2 linked regions of the Homo sapiens genome follow. The protein of the gene in region 2 purifies or fractionates together with the protein of the main gene of each other region. This does not show direct contact. Each region holds a gene or a part of one and is shown on either strand. Other genes may lie near its edges. The genes, in order: ACAD8 and POLM.

The links.
Region 1: the proteins of POLM (region 2) and ACAD8 purify together in Homo sapiens (affinity purification with mass spectrometry; 2 studies listed by BioGRID and IntAct, with this or other methods). This does not show direct contact.

What each region holds. Positions count from the first base shown.
Region 1 is NC_000011.10:134,248,595-134,257,000, reverse strand, and holds the start of ACAD8 (isobutyryl-CoA dehydrogenase, mitochondrial), read right to left. Parts: upstream 3,434-8,406; 5' UTR 3,401-3,433; coding exon 3,292-3,400; intron 454-3,291; coding exon 353-453; intron 1-352. Other genes in the region: THYN1 (thymocyte nuclear protein 1), read left to right, coding at 4,119-4,161, 5,693-5,871, 6,658-6,726, 7,081-7,173, 7,739-7,834, 8,042-8,192.
Region 2 is NC_000007.14:44,072,049-44,079,530, forward strand, and holds the end of POLM (DNA-directed DNA/RNA polymerase mu), read right to left. Parts: intron 6,764-7,482; coding exon 6,692-6,763; intron 4,582-6,691; coding exon 4,461-4,581; intron 2,483-4,460; coding exon 2,350-2,482; intron 2,186-2,349; coding exon 2,083-2,185; intron 1,978-2,082; coding exon 1,735-1,977; intron 1,661-1,734; coding exon 1,577-1,660; intron 1,386-1,576; exon of another isoform or gene 1,383-1,385; coding exon of another isoform or gene 1,330-1,382; coding exon 1,243-1,329; coding exon of another isoform or gene 1,014-1,242; 3' UTR 14-1,013; downstream 1-13. UniProt on the Homo sapiens protein: Gap-filling polymerase involved in repair of DNA double-strand breaks by non-homologous end joining (NHEJ). Participates in immunoglobulin (Ig) light chain gene rearrangement in V(D)J recombination.

The sequences.
Region 1 (8,406 bases), on a different chromosome or scaffold from region 2:
CACATGCGACAGCGTATGAATTCTCTTAATATGCCTGTTTGTCATCTTACAGTGGTTATCAGTTAACATGGGTCCTGTAAAAACTTGTTCTGGCATTAAGAAGTTTCTTTTTATTATCTATAGAACTGCCTTAGTTTTATATCCAAATCTTTATTCAACTAACAAAAAAAAAGTTATGTACAAGATGATCAGGATGCCTTCTAGGAAAAATCATCCACTACCGGTATTCTCACTTGCAGTAAGAGTTGGTAAGTGGAGGAGACATTTAACAATTACATTATCAGGAGACAAAGATAAAGGTCTGCCTGAGACATCTGTTGTTAGAACGTCTAAGCACAAGAAAAACGCCTACCTTCTGGTCCCACTCTGCCATATTTGGAGCCATCTCTCGGGCAGCAAAGTCAAAGGCCACTTTTTGAAATTCTTTCTGCTCTTCATTAAGTCCCATGGAAGCTGTGGGCAGGATTGCATATACTGTTCTAGGACAGGGTCAGTGTTGCCAACAAGGTGTTGCCAACAAGAAGCACCACGAAGTTGTGAAAGTGGATCTACTGTAGTATTTCCCATACACGGTATAGCCTTTAACAGCTAGAGAATGGCAGCTTCTGTCGTTATTCCACTTGTCATATGGAGAAAGGACAGTTCTAGCACACATCCAGATCAACCTAGAACAGGATAGGGGACTTCCAGACATCTCTTATCCTAGCACTTAGTAAAATGCAGTTGTAGACCTAGAGGTTGAGGCCACAGTGCTAGAACTTTGGTCATTATAACTGACACTGAAGAGCACTATGGGCTGGGCGTGATGGTTCACGCCTATAATCCCAGCACTTCAGGAGGCCGAGGCGGGCAGATCACCTGAGGTCAGGAGCTCAAGACCAGCCTGACCAACATGGAAAAACCCCGCCTCTACTAAAAATACAAAAATTAGCTGGGTGTGGTGGCGCATGCCTGTAATCCCAGCTACTTTGGGAGGGTGAGACAGGAGAATCGCTTGAACCCAGGAGGCAGAGGTTGCAGTGAGCTGAGATTGTGCCATTGCACTCTAGCCTGGGTGACAGAGCAAGACTCTGTTTCAAAAGAAGAAAAAAAGAAAAAAGAGCACTATGGGAAGACTATGGCGCCACACTTGGCAATAATTTACTTCAGTGCCTACAAGCGATGCAGTCCTCACAGAAGAACACAAGGGCAGGTGCCAGAGTCTGTTCCTTGGGGCAAATCTGGGCATCAGTAATGGCTGGCTATGCGAGCCTGGAGAGGGCACTGCTTTCTGTGATCAGTACTCTCATTAAAATGGGAAAGTCAGAAATGAAGAGTTCTGAGGATTAACGATTAGGCTGCCTTGAGAAACTCAGAGCAGAAACCTATGTTGGGTATTACCCTCAGGAACAGAGTTAGGGATAAACAATTCATGGTTCTCTGACTGGGGTCAGGCCATTTATTCACACAATTTTGTACAAGGGTTGCTGTTACTGTAGACCATGGCTCAAAGATCATTTCCAAAAGAATGTTTATTGGGTGTTTACTAGGTAGCAGTGCTGGGGTTACAAAAATAAATATGATCCAGCCAGGCGCAGTGGCTCATGCCTGTAATCCCAGACTTTGGGGAGGCCAAGGCAGGTGGATCACTTGAGGTCAGGAGTTCAAGTCCAGCTTGTCCAACATGGTGAAACCCCGTCTCTACTAAAAATATAAAAATTAGCTGGGCATGGTGGCATGTGCTGTAATCCCAGCTACTTGGGAGGCTGAGGCACAAGAATTGCTTGAACCCGTGGGGCAGAGGTTGCGGTGAGTTGAGATCGCACCACTGTACTCCAGCCTGGGCAACAGAAAGAGACTCCATCTCAAAAAAATAAATAAATAAGATCCATTCACACAAAGGATGACTATTTCAATCCTAGCAAGAGCTCATTAAATGTTAACAAATCTTCTTCTTCTGTAAATGGCTACTTCCTAAAACAAATAGTTCAAGGAACCACAGGCTTAAGAAATAAATCTGAGTTGCATTCTAATGGAAGGAAATAGTTTTATGCAAATCATATGCATAAGTAAACACAAGTTCCCAGAAGGAAATACAGTATAAAAACAAAACAAATACCACCACTCATGAACTTTGCCAGTTACTAGCAGAGTTCAAGATGCCAATACATAGTTACTAGCAGAGCTCAAGATGCCAATACATATACACTAAAAAGGTAAAGCTAAATAGAAAAACACTCCAAATGAAATGGGAAAAGCCTTTGACTGCAGAGCCACTCAAGTGTAAGCAAGATGCAAACAATAACAAAACCCACCTCTAAATAATTCCTTATCTGCTTCGGTATCAACCAGGGTAATCTGGGTTATCAAATTCTAAGCGCTAGGCCAGGGCAGCACCTCTTGAATGAGTTTTAGGACATTCAGAAGAAAACAGTATTCTATGCCTTACTGTACTTTATAGATCTGATATCTAAGGGACTTATTCTGTTGTAAAGAAAACTGCCATTTATTTAAAATAAATTTAAAAATATTTCAGAAGAAAAAAGTGTTTATAAACATTCTTGGCAGAGAAGTCACAAACTGGCCGGGTCTCCACCACTCCTCGCTACATTCAAATTACTGTTCAGAGCCTAAAGACACTCAAGTTTGTCAGCTCTGGTAGAGTTTCCCACTGGCAATAATAATTATTTTTCCTGCATGAGTTTCAACACTAAAAGTGTCTTATAGCCAGAGGTGTTAAGATACCAAATCTTTGTGTGTGAGCAAATCTTGTATGACCTGGAGTTCTTGTGCAGTTGTCACCATCAGCACCCAGCCAGCTTCTTATATTCTCACTGCTTTTATGACCTACTGTTATGATTAAAAACCAACCAACCCAACAACAACCAAGCCCCAAGTTTCTTCACTTCTCTAAGCATCCGAGGGTGACCGGCCGCAGGAGGACCCGGGCCGGAGGGGAACCTGCGGGGGGATGACCGGCCGGAGGGGAACCTGCGGGGGGTGACCGGCCGGAGGAGGACCGGGGCGGGGGTGACCGGCCGGAGGAGGACCGGGGCGGGGGTGACCGGCCGGAGGAGGACCCGGGCAGGGGTGACGGGCCAGATGGGGACCCGGATGGTGGTGACCGACCGGAGGGGGCAGCCAGGCCGGGGGTGACCGGCCGGAGTAGGGAGCCAGGCCGGGGGGGTGACTGGCCGGAAGGGGAGCTGACGCCGGGGTGACTGGATGGAACGGGGAGACTGCAGCCCCTCGCGGACATATGTCCGCCGGGGTTCTGGACACCTGTCCTACTGCCCGCCAGGAGATCCTTACGGTCGATGCAGGAGGTCAAGCTCCGGTGGCCGGTCTGGACGAGGACCCGGAGACCGCCGGGCAGGCAGCCGAGGCGCGCCCCGAAACGCCGGCAGCCGCTCCACAGCATAGCCGCCGCAGCTCCGCGTTCAGCTAAGAGTCTGAACGCCTTCGACCTCCGTTGCGCTCGCACTGGCGGGACCTGCGACCCGGCAACGCCTGTCCCACTGCACCCTGGGGGTTGTAGTCCTCCCACGAGCCCTAACAACCCAGGTGCCAGGCGGGCTCCCAAGGGGACAGGACTACAATTCCCAGAAGTCCTCGGGGCCTCGGCGCCGCAGAGATGCACCGCCCACCAAGCGCCGCGGGGGTCGCGCTGCACAGCCTGCGGCGCAGCGGAGGCGGACCGCAGTCGAGTCTGCAGAGTGTTGGGTCTGTAGCCAGCAAATTACTTCATCATCTAGATTATCCATTCAGTTGATCCTAATTAGCAAGGATAACAAGGTAACACAAGGCTTACTTATATTCACCCAACAAAAGTGTCTCTGTGGAGCCACTTCCCAGTGAACTACATACTGAGATAGGGGTTCCTGGATGAGAAGGACCAAGGACAGAACCGAGAAGAGTTTAGGGGCAGGTTATGCGAGATGGAAATGGCGCAGATAACGGAGGGAAGGATTTGAGGGCTCAAACGTAGGCGTCTGTGTTTCGCAAAAGTTGGAGACGTTCTAGGCTGCCTCTCGTTGCCTCCATCTCGCTCTGCGCGGGTTTTGGAGGACATTAGCATTCTTTCTTGTATCTCCGTTGATTCCAGAATCGTCCGCACTAAAGTCCCCTGCAGCGTGACCATGTCGAGACCCCGGAAGAGGCTGGCTGGGACTTCTGGTTCAGGTGAGCTGCCCCTAGGCTGCACAAAGGCAGCCCAAGAAAAAACTTTTCTCGAAGAGCCTGTTTAGTACTCATTTTTCACTCCCTGCTTTTTGAGAACCCTTTGTGATATTTTTACTCCATTATCCTTAATCACTCTCCATCTTCTTTACTTGTCTCACCAAGCTCCTACCTACAGTTCCTTTTTCTTGTTTATTCAGGCAATGGTTGTTGTGCACAAAGACTCTTTGAGATACCAGGTGGCGTGCTAAAGAATATAAAGCGCCTGCTTGCGGGTGAACTGCAAACAGATGTGATGGGGTTCAGGAAAATGGATTGTTAAGTTTATGGAGGGAGGAATCACGGGGAAGGCCTCGAGAAGGATGTGGAATTTGAGCCCAGCCTTGAAGAATGGGAGACTTTCCACGGGCAAAGTTTAGTACTAAGAAAACGTGATGTCGTTTTTATAATCACAAAGATGGATGGCATTCTAAGTGGATGGAGGAGGAGGAACATTGGAAGGTACAGAAAGTACCTCTTTTGGGAATGACAGGGGTTCCAGATATACTACAGCACATTGCAGTTATTTATCAATATGTGGTGTTTGCAGTGGGCCTGTTAACTCCTAAGGGGCCATTAGGAAACTAGGTTAGGAAGGTATGCTGGGTTCAGAGCATTAGACAGCCATAAATGGTATTTAATGACAATTGATGTAGGGACTTTGACTAAATTCAGAGGCAGTATAGTCATTAAGTAGCTTCAGATAGACCTCAGTGACAGGTGCTGACCTCATATCTTGATTCCACCATTACTGGATGTGTGATCTGGAGCATGCTTCCCAGATGAAGAGTAGAACATCTCACAGGTTATGTAGATTAACCGAGTTAGGGTTAGGGTAACACATAGACCTTGGGCCCTGTCATATAGTAATTTAACAACTTAGCTACTGAATGCCTACTGTGTTCCAGGCACATTCTGATTGTCTTGGGATGAAATCGAATCATCACCATTTTTCTACAATGTCCTGAATGAACTGTTTCTTTCAACTTTTATTGGCACCTTCAAGGAGCAGAAAGGAGATGGGCCAGGAGCCACAGTGAGCAAGAAGGAAAGACGTATGAGATGAGAATAATAATGCTTTTATTATGCACTTATTGTAATGCCAGGCATTGTCTAGGCCCTTTGTATTACCTCATTTAAGCTTCAAAATAGTTGCAAGTAGGTGCTCAGTTTCCTCTTTCCTATGCAAAGGCATAGAAGAGAGAGTGAGGAAAGGAAAACATGTATTGACTACTGTCCGGACCTTTAATCCTGAACAACCCTGTAAGGTGTTCTTACCCTATTGAATAGATAATCCAGAAGATACCCTGTAAGGTAGGTATTCTTGTCTAATTTTTATAGATAAGGAAAGCTTCTTAACAGTAAGATTAAGTTCCTACAGCTGGTAATGGATCCATGATTTGAATCCAGGTCTGACTCCAAAGCTAAGCTTTTTCCATTATGAAACATTGCCTTTAACAAGCATGATCTTTTCTTTTTGCTTCTCCTATTGCAGACAAGGGACTATCAGGAAAACGCACCAAAACTGAGAACTCAGGTGAGGCATTAGCTAAAGTGGAGGACTCCAACCCTCAGAAGACTTCAGCCACTAAAAACTGTTTGAAGAATCTAAGCAGCCACTGGCTGATGAAGTCAGAGCCAGAGAGCCGCCTAGAGAAAGGTGTAGATGTGAAGGTGAGACCCTTGACCTGTCTCCAGTCCCTTCATGGTGTTTTTTAAATGAGAAGTGAATATGGGACACCATAGGGTTCCATCCCCAGCTTCTTATCTTTGAAGGGAAGGAAAAAGGTAAAAATGAATAAAATCGGCAGGGTTTATTATCATCAGCTGGTTTGTGAACCTGTGTATCTAGGGCAGGGGTTGGCTAACCTTTGCCACAAAGGGCCAGATAGTAAATTTTGTAGGCTTGTGCGTGTTACAGTCTCTGTTGCAACCCTGCCCTTGTAGCAAGAGAGTGGCCACAGATAATAAGTAAACAGCTGTGGCTGTGTTCAAGTTCAACTTTATTCACAAAATCCAGCATGGGGTTAGATTTGTCCTGAAGGCTATAGTCTGCCAACCTCAATCTTAGGTTACCTTTCTCTGAACACCTGCCATGCTCCTAGGTGTCTCCCTGCCAACAGTTGATGTATATTTCAGGGAATTTAATATAGCCTGGGAAAAATATAAGCAGAACTATTATAAATATAAAGTAAAATGCAAGTAACTAGCAGATTACTTTATCACCTAGATTATTCATTCAGCTAATCCTCATAATTAGCAAGGATAACAAGGTAACACAAGGCTTACTTACATTCACCCAGCAAAAGTGTCTCTGTGGAGCCACTTCCCGGTGAACTACATACTTCCTCTATAGCCAGTGGCCCCTCTCATTTTAGGGGAAGGAACTGTCTGCTTCCATATGTGCTTACTAACTGGCCAAGGATTGTTTAATGATTGAATTTATTTCCTCTTGCCTAGTTCAGCATTGAGGATCTCAAAGCACAGCCCAAACAGACAACATGCTGGGATGGTGTTCGTAACTACCAGGTAAGAGGGTAAGGAGGAGGTCGCCTGAGACCCAGGTGGGATGAATGCCTGCCTCCTCCTCATGACGTACTCAGTAGCAGAACCTCTTGGCCAAGGTTGCTTTTTCTCAGAAGCAAACCTGATAATGTATTAAAAAATGCCTTAAGTACTCTGCATGAAATTTTCAATTGGCCTGTGTTCTGGCCAATGTCCTGGTAAAAGTCTGGGTGTCCTGGCAAAGGGGAAGGACTTTCTAATGAATTGAGGAGTTGCAGACAAGAATCACCCATCTATTAAAAGCAGACTTGATTTCTGCTAAAAGCTAGTACTTTCCAGCTGGTGGGAGGATAGTTACTCTTTCTTCTCCCGGGACAGGCTCGGAACTTCCTTAGAGCCATGAAGCTGGGAGAAGAAGCCTTCTTCTACCATAGCAACTGCAAAGAGCCAGGCATCGCAGGACTCATGAAGGTTAGTTGGGCAGGTTTTGGTGTGAATCCCTTTTCCTCCAGGGAGACTAACTTAAGTAGATATAAAGGGATATACCTTAATTAGGCAACAAAAAAGTACACTCCCCCCCACCCCATCCCCCTTTTACAGGAATAGGGAAAAACTGCCCTGGCCCCTTCCTATCTGATAACTCAAAGCAGGCCTTCATTCAGGTCCGACTAGCACAGACTTCACTCCACCTCTAAGTCTTGATCTCACTCGAAAACAGGCCTGATGATAGCTCCTCCAAGCTTATCAGGATAAAATTATTAACTGTGCAGAGGGGAAAAAAACAGTGGTACCAGTAATAACCTTTGCCATTTGTTTTTAGAGCATGTTTTTAAGACTTTTGTAAAAACAGAGTTGATTTCCTAGTCTATATATTAGACTATATATTGTTTCCAAATATCTGAGCCCCCATTGGCTGTACAGCAAGGCAGATGGGTTAAGAATGTGCAGGGAAGAAATGAAAGTTGGATATGGATTAAAAGATTGGCTGTGGAGCTGACTGCAGGCAGATGATTCAAAGCTTTTGTTTTGGTTTCAGATCGTGAAAGAGGCTTACCCAGACCACACACAGTTTGAGAAAAACAATCCCCATTATGACCCATCTAGCAAAGAGGACAACCCTAAGTGGTCCATGGTAAAGACTATGCTTTCTATTTCATGACAGGGGAAGGATGAACCAGGGGAAGAAGACGGTTGGGGTGACTGTAGGTCAAGGTACACGGCCCAGCACTTACTCAGATGAGGTGATACTGAGATAGGAGCTTCCTGTGGGCGGTTAAAAATACAGTGGGCACAGTCAGCCTAGACACGTCTTTCTGTCATGTACACTGTTGTCACATAGGTGGATGTACAGTTTGTTCGGATGATGAAACGTTTCATTCCCCTGGCTGAGCTCAAATCCTATCATCAAGCTCACAAAGCTACTGGTGGCCCCTTAAAAAATATGGTTCTCTTCACTCGCCAGAGATTATCAATCCAGCCCCTGACCCAGGGTAAGAGTGGGCCCTCTCCTTTATTGTCCATATACCAGAATGACCTCATGAATTCCCACTTACTAGCTGATTAAACTTGGGCATGGTACTTCACCTTTCTCAGTCAGCATCCTCACCTGTAACACCCATGAGGGAGGGAATGTGGCCAGAGTTACCTGTTACTATTACCCAGTACTCTATAGTGCTTGGCACCTGGTAAATAGTTTTGAACGAA
Region 2 (7,482 bases):
GAGAGGCCAGTCCAAAGGTTAAATATAGTTTGGTTCTATTTACATGACATTCTAGAGAAAGCAAAACTATAGGGATGTAGCACCGCTAAGTGGGTGGGGGTGGAGAAGCACATGACCACAATAGGACAGCATGGGAAGTGTTCTGGGGATGGACCTGGTGTGCCCTACGTGTGCAAAAACTGCACCCCAAGAGTCAACTTTACTGCATGTTTTCAAAATATTTTTTAATGTGATGAGTGGTCTGGGAAATCCTCGCCTAACAAAGTGGCTTTTGATTCAAGGCCTGAAGAAGGGGAGGGCCCACTCCAGGTAGATGACATGGCCAGGGCAAAACCTGAGGCCAGAGTGTGCCTGGGGATATGAGGGACGTGGAGGGCACCCATGTCCAGCCCACCTCAGTGCTTCTGCCTCAGTGAGAAGGGGAGGGAGTTGGCCACAAGGGGGCCTGGGTGCATCAAATAGGAAGCCGGTGAGTCAAGCAGCTCGGGGCCAGTGGGGCTGGAGAGATGCCAGAGCCAGGGGCTATGTGTGGACTTAGGGTTTGGAACCATTAAAGGGCTCTGCGACGGGAGTGGCAGGATATGACCTATTTTTGAGACATTGTGCTGAGAACAGGCCTTAAAGGCAGAAGCACAGAGCCTGGCTCGGGGCGCTGCAGTACTGAAGCCCCATAGTTGAAAATTATCTTCCTCCCAGCTCCTACCCAGGCCCTCTCCCTCTCCAGATGCCTACAGCACACCAGACAGTAGGCTCCTTGCTGGCACGAACCACAGCCTCCAGCTCATGGCTCTCAAATGCAGTGCAGGTATGCATGGTTCTCTTCTGGGCATTCTGGGCAGGGTGCCCTGCAGGAGCCACAGTTAACTGCAGTGCAACTAATGAGACACTGCACATCAGGGACCACTTGCCATTCATGACTGCAGGCCCCACCACAGCTCCACGATGTGGGCCCCACTCACATCCCATCCAGGGCAGGAACGTGAGCCATGGGGAGGCTAAGAGCAGACCCAGGGTCACACAGTGATGAGGCTGGCACTGAGGGCTCCCACCTCATCACACCCTGCAGCACACCAGCAGGGGCTCAACTGATCCTGCAGGCACAATTGACCTCCGGAAGAGCCAGGCCTTGGCGGGGAGGGGTGAAGGTGGGGGTCAGGGGGCAGCATATCTGCCTGGAGACATTCAGTGGCCAGGTTGGGGGCAGCCCAATTTCCTGAGTGGAAGTGGGGGACACAGGCAGGCTCAGGCGTTTCTCTGCTCTGGAGGAAGGTACTCAAGGCCCAGGTGTCTGAAGATGTCTTCCTCTGAAGCCGCTTGGAAAAATGTCTTCTGCAACAGAAGCAGGACTTCCGTGACCTAGGAGTCTTGCCACTGCTGCTTCCCTGCAGGAAGACTGAGGGTGGGGAAGAGCCCAGCGCCGAGGTGGGGTGTGCTCTTGAGGGCCAGGAACTGTGTGTGGAGACCCAGATTCGGGTCCTATGGGTTTCAGGCTGGAGGGGTCTGGGGCCATTTCAGATTGTGGGTCAGGGAGCGGACTATGGGTGCTGTTTGCTGTCCCCAGTCCCCAACAATGTACCTGCTCCGGGTCAAACAGCCCATGGCTGTTCAGCCACAGGCCCTTCTCCTTCCGGCTGAAGCGGCGCAGCTCCCGCTGGAAAAGCTGTAGGGAAGGGATTGTCCTCAGCAGGGCTGGCCCAGCCCCACCCCCAGGCGGCCCAGCGGCACACTGCCTACCTTGGAGCCAGTCCAACCGAGCAGGGCGAAAGGGAACTGGCTGACGGGTGCAACTACCAAGTCCACTCTCACGGCCTTCCAGGATGGGCAGGGCCTCGTGGATCCCCCCACAGCAGCCCCTGGAGGTTGTGGTAGGCGGAAAATGCAGAAACTTCTCTCAAAAGCGTCCATGTGGCTCTGTTGGGCCAGGCGGGTAGGGGACTCACAGCAGCTGTGCTGGTGCTGGTGGTACAGGATGAGGCCCTGTGGGGAGAGGCGGGCGTGGCTGAGACCATCCGGTGGTGTGGAGAGAGCAGGAGGCAGTGGCATTGGCCAGCGGTGGCTCTTGGGGAGCAGGGAGGCCCTCACCTGGTCCTGCAGGCGGCACATCACTCTAGGCAGCAGCCCCGCCTCCTGACCCTCCTTGGGGTGGGTGATGAGGAAGTCCACGTCATGGCCCTGCAACTTCCCCCTGAGGGCGTCAGTCTGACTCTGACTCAGGGACACGGCCTGCTCACTCCAGCCCCAGGCCACATCCCTTCCAACGAGTGGGCCCGCTTCAGGGTCCCCGACTCAGGTCCCTTCACTGGGGAGGGGTCTGAAGCCAAGCCAGAGGGGCACGTCGGGCCTTCTTACCTGCGGAAGCCGCCGGTCAGCGTGACGGTGGCCCCAGGCAGGGCCTGCCCCACAGCTTCCTCCACCACCTGCTGCAGGGCATCTACATCGGACCGCAGGACTGGGGTGCTCAGGTCCTGGTGGTGCTGGAGCCCTGGGGGCAACACCGGCCCTCCTGACTCACCCAGCCTGCCCACCACACCGAGCCCCCATCCCTCACCAGCATGAGGTGATCAACCTGGGGCCCCGTCATTGCAGGACCAGGAGAGGCCTCCGAGGAAGGTGAGGCTAGGGCAGGGAGCAGAGTGAGATCCCAATCTAAGCCTGACACTATCTTCTCTCCCCCTTTAAATTTTAAACTTTTATTTTGAGACAGTTGTAGATTCACTCGCAGTTAAAAGAAATAGCACAGAGGGAGATCCCATGTGCCTTTTACCCAGCTCCCCCAAAAGGTTAACCCCTTACAAAACTATAATTTTGCAACCAAATATAAGGATACTGATGTTGATACAGTCATGCCACAGGCTATCTCTTTTGATGGCTGTTTTTCCTTATGCATAAAGTGGGACCAAGAGGTGGTAAAAGGATGGAAGATGGCTTTGCCATGACGAACACCTCACTCTGGCCTACTTCTGTTTCCTCACCTATCAGCCTCCCACACGCAGTTAAGGAGAGGTTTATTTATTTATTTGAGATGGAGTCTCGCTCTTGTTGCCCAGGTTGGAGGGCAGTGGCGCAATCTGAGCTTACTGCAACCTCCACCTCCCAGGTTCAAGTGATTCTCCTGCCTCAGCCTCCCGAGTAGCTGAGATTACGGGTGTCTGCCACCACACCCAGCTAATTTTTTATTTTTAGTAGAGACAGGGTTTCGCCACGTTGGCCAGGCTGGTCTTGAACTCCTAACCTCAGGTGATCCACCCGCCTCGGCCTCTCAAAGTGCTGGGACTACATAAAGATGTGAGTCATGGCACCCAGCTAAGGAGAGGTTTAAATGTGAGGAACAGCAGCACCTGGCACAGTGAGCTCTCAGTAAACGCTGCTAACCATTCCTGACTACTCTTGCCATGGGGAGAGGCGATCAAGAGGAACCAGCTCTGCGGGTCTCACCTCCTGTCAGCTGAACTGGGCAGTGGCCCGGGGGAAGATGTGCGAAGAGGCAGTGGAGCTGGCAGTGCCTGCTGGGCTGTGGGGATTGCTTCAGCAGAGCCCTCAACCCAAGGGAGGTCCCAGATGGTGTGGCCAGAGTAGCCAGGCAGGCCATGCAGAGAGAACAGAGTATCTGCTCAACACCTGCCACTTGCCGGCTCTCACAGGGGAGCCTACGAATTCATTCCTTCCCACCTTTTTTTTTTTTTTTTTTTGAGATAGGGTCTTGCTCTGTCACTCAGGCTGGAGTGCAGTGGCTCAATCTCAGCTCATTGCAACTTCCACCTTGGCCTCAAGGCTTGACCTCCCGGGCTCGAGCGATCCTTGTACCTCGGCCTCATGAGTAGCTGGTACTACGGGCATCCACCATCACGCCTGGCTAACTCTTGTATTTCTCGTAGAGACAGGGTTTCACCCTGTTGCCCAGACTGGTCTTGAACTGCTGAGCTCAAGCGATCTACCCACCTTGACCTCCCAAAGTGCTGGGATTACAGGTGTGAGTCACCATGCCCAGCCTTCCTTCTCCATTTTACAGAAAATGTAACAGACTCAGAGAGGTTATTTCTTGGGCAATGGTCACCTACCTGGCAAATGGTAGATAAGACTCAAACCCAGGCCTAACAAACTTGAAAGCTGATGTTCTTTCTGCTGCTCAGTGCCACCTCTGCAGGCCTCCATGTACCAAGCACCACACTGGGCAGTGTGCCCAAGGCCCAGGCTGTCCCTGGTCACTGGTCAAAGTCTAACCAGTAGGCAGACACAAGCCCCTGGCATATCATGGAAGTTGCTGTGGTCAGCATCGTCCACTGAGAAAAGGCTTTGATAGATCCTGACTGCACTGGGTGGAGACCCCAGGAAGCCCACCACACAAAGCTGCCACCAAACCCTCTGCACCAGACTGCTCCCTTCCCTCTAGGGAGTTGATGCTGAGGGATCCAGGGTGCAGTTTAGGGAAGCCCAGGGCCCAGCCTCTCTGGAGGGCTCACCCGCTTTCTGCTGTTGGGTTAGTTTCTGGGGCTGCTCTCGGAGGTCATCTAAGGTTCGCAGTCCTTCCCGGTACCACCGGTCAGCAGTCTTCACACCGACCCCGAAGATCTGGGTGAAGAGCTGTGGGGAAGGAGCGTAGCCCGGTTGGGCAGAGCTCTCATGGCTAGACTCGGATGATCACCCGCTCCGGGACGGTGTGGCCCATGGAGCACCATGCACCAGGCAGGCGCCGTCCCCACTCGCAACCTGCCGTAGACCACAGGGCAAGGATTCAAACCTGGAGCCTGACTACCCAGCCTGCCGTCTCTGGGAACAAACCCACGCACACCCCTCTCCTCTCCTCTATGAAAGGGACTTACACAGCTCTAGCCTGTGATTCCAACATAATCAAAACAGTCACCCTAACACATCAGCACGAGGGGCTCCTAAGTCACTGGAAAAACCATGCCTCTCCCACCTAACAGAAGGTGGAACAAATTTCTGTGGTTCTCCTCCTTAGCCAACAGCAAAAAACAATGAGGAGTTAACAATCAAAAGGGTGGATTTAGGAGCAGAGTTGGCAGGGCTGGCTGGGGTGCTCACATATCTTCCCACAGAGGGTGGGCCCCAGCCCAAGCAAGTCACCTGCTTCAGGTCAGCCACTAGAGTCCCTCCCTAGGAATTCTGGATCTGAGACTGAGGGCAGGCCCACACAGTGGCAGAAGCTGTAGCCTGTGGCAGCCGAGCACCTTTTGTGGCCACATTTCCAACCGATGGAAGAAGCTGGTGCGTCGCAAGAGAGGGCGAAGCCACCGTGCAGAGGGGCAGAGGGGAGGAGGAGTGGCCTGGTGATACCCAGGTCGCTGAGCCCAGTTGTCCTGCAGACCGGCCACAGCCCTCCCCATCCTGGGCTCTGCTGGCCCTCCTTTCCTTTATTTTGTGAACCAACGGTGTGGGGTGGGTCACTGTCACTTGCAACCCAAAGAATCCTGACTAAAAATGATGAGATTAACCCAATTATATTGTTAATAAACTTCTCATTACTAATGTAATTTTCTGCCAGCCTAGATGCCTTCAGGGCTGGGGCTGAGGCTGACAGTGAAAGTACTCACTAACCTCACACCACTTCAAGGGGATTTCATCATCTTCAGGCCCCTCACTCCCACACTCACCACGGTGGCCCCACTCATCTGGTCCCCTGTCCCTGCCAGTGCCCCTTGCCCCCTTCCCTGCATATTTGAGCCCATTTGCCCTGCACACACTGCTCAAGTCTCTCCTCTTCGAAGCCCTCCCTGTCAATCCTGACAACATTCTGTGTGACCTCCCAAGGCCCCATCCACCCAGGAAGCCACACTTCACTGACAGTTATCCATGTGGCCACCGCTGTGACACCTCCAGCCACAAAGCCAGTTGGCAGAAGGGTGTCAAAGCAGGCACACCCGAGGCATCCAAAAGAACTCAGACGGCATTTCCCTATCAGACCAGGAGTGAGCAGAAACAGAGGGAAGGTGGCCATGGAAACAGGCAGGCTGACAACACTGAGAAAATAACACATAAGGTCCTGCAGAAGGCGGGCAAGGGCAAGCCCAGCATGCTCAGTGGCAGCACCCAAGGGTACATTTGGTTCACAGTGCTCTGTTTAAGATGCCACAGCATGTAATCTACTTGAGAATATTCCATCAAAAACAGTCAAGGCAGAGCGAAGTGGCTCATGCCTATAATCCCAGCATTTTGGGGACCAAGGCAGGAGAATCATTTGAGCATAGGGGTTTGAGACCAGCTTAGGCAACATTACCAAGACCCCATCTTTACGAGAAAGATTTAAAAATTAACCTGGTGTGGTGGCACATGCCTGTAGTCCCAGCTACTCCAGAGACTGAGGTGGGAGGATGGTTTGAGCCCAGGAAGTCAAGGCTGCCGTGAGCTGTGATCGCACCACTGTACTCCAGCCTGGGCGACAGAGCGAGACCCTGTCTCAAAAACAAAATAAAACAAAAAGCCCCAAAAGCCAGATGGTGCTGAGTGATCTAGAAAATTCTGTCCTCAAAACAAGCTTCTTCCTTGCCTGTCTCCACTTGGCTGCCTTGTGCATATCAGGTATCAGCTTAGCTGCCACTTCCTCGGCAAGACCTTCTCTGACCCCTGGGCTGGGTCAGCTGCCCCTGTTTGCCTCCCCGTGCATGGTGTGGACTGTGTTGTCATTCCCAGGGCAGGACATTCCTGGGGTAGGTCCGAGCCCTGCCCTGCGCACCTTCATGGTCTGGTACCTCTCTGAGCGCCGAACTCTCTCCACCTCCTCACACACTCCATGCTCCAGCAGCTCCTGGGGGAGGGAACAAAGCAGAACTCTAAGCCTGAGGGCGTGGGAAGAAAGAGAAGGGCGGGGAGTTAGGGTCAGGGCTGGGGGCCCAAGGACTGAGGCAGTCCCCTCCAACACCCGGCAGAGACAACTTTGTGAGGTCAGGGTCCAGTAGGACCTGGAAATGGAGACTGTGCCCAGGGAGGTGACCAAAGTTGCTGCCACACAGCTGGGAGGTCAGGGCTCCAGCCTCAAAGCTCCTTCGGGCCTGGAGTTACAGCAGCTGAGATGCCAGGTAACGTGGATCATCTCTCAGTCAAATAAGTCCCAAGATACATAAACAATTGCTTTTCAGAACATGTGAACTCAATACTACTTCATTTAAAAGCATCTTCTGTCACTGTGTATTCTTGCAATGAAAGTGCACTAAAGGACAACTAAACACACTGGGGCACTGAAAAGAGATGCTCACACTCAGGGTGCTCTCTTTCATTCCACTGTGGAGGGCAGTTTGGGACTAATGACAATGACAACAGTGTCACCCCTAGCCCTGCCAGGCCCCTCACAGCGCCATTCACTGGGTCCTCTAGGCCACCCAGGAGTAAATGGCTAGTGTGCACAGGAGGAATCTGAGCGCAGAGGGTGGCTTGTTGAGGCCTTGGAGCAGTGTCAGCACCCACGACTGTCTGTCCTCACCCACCCCCACAGCACCCTCTGCTGTCTCACCAGGCCCCAAGGCCTCC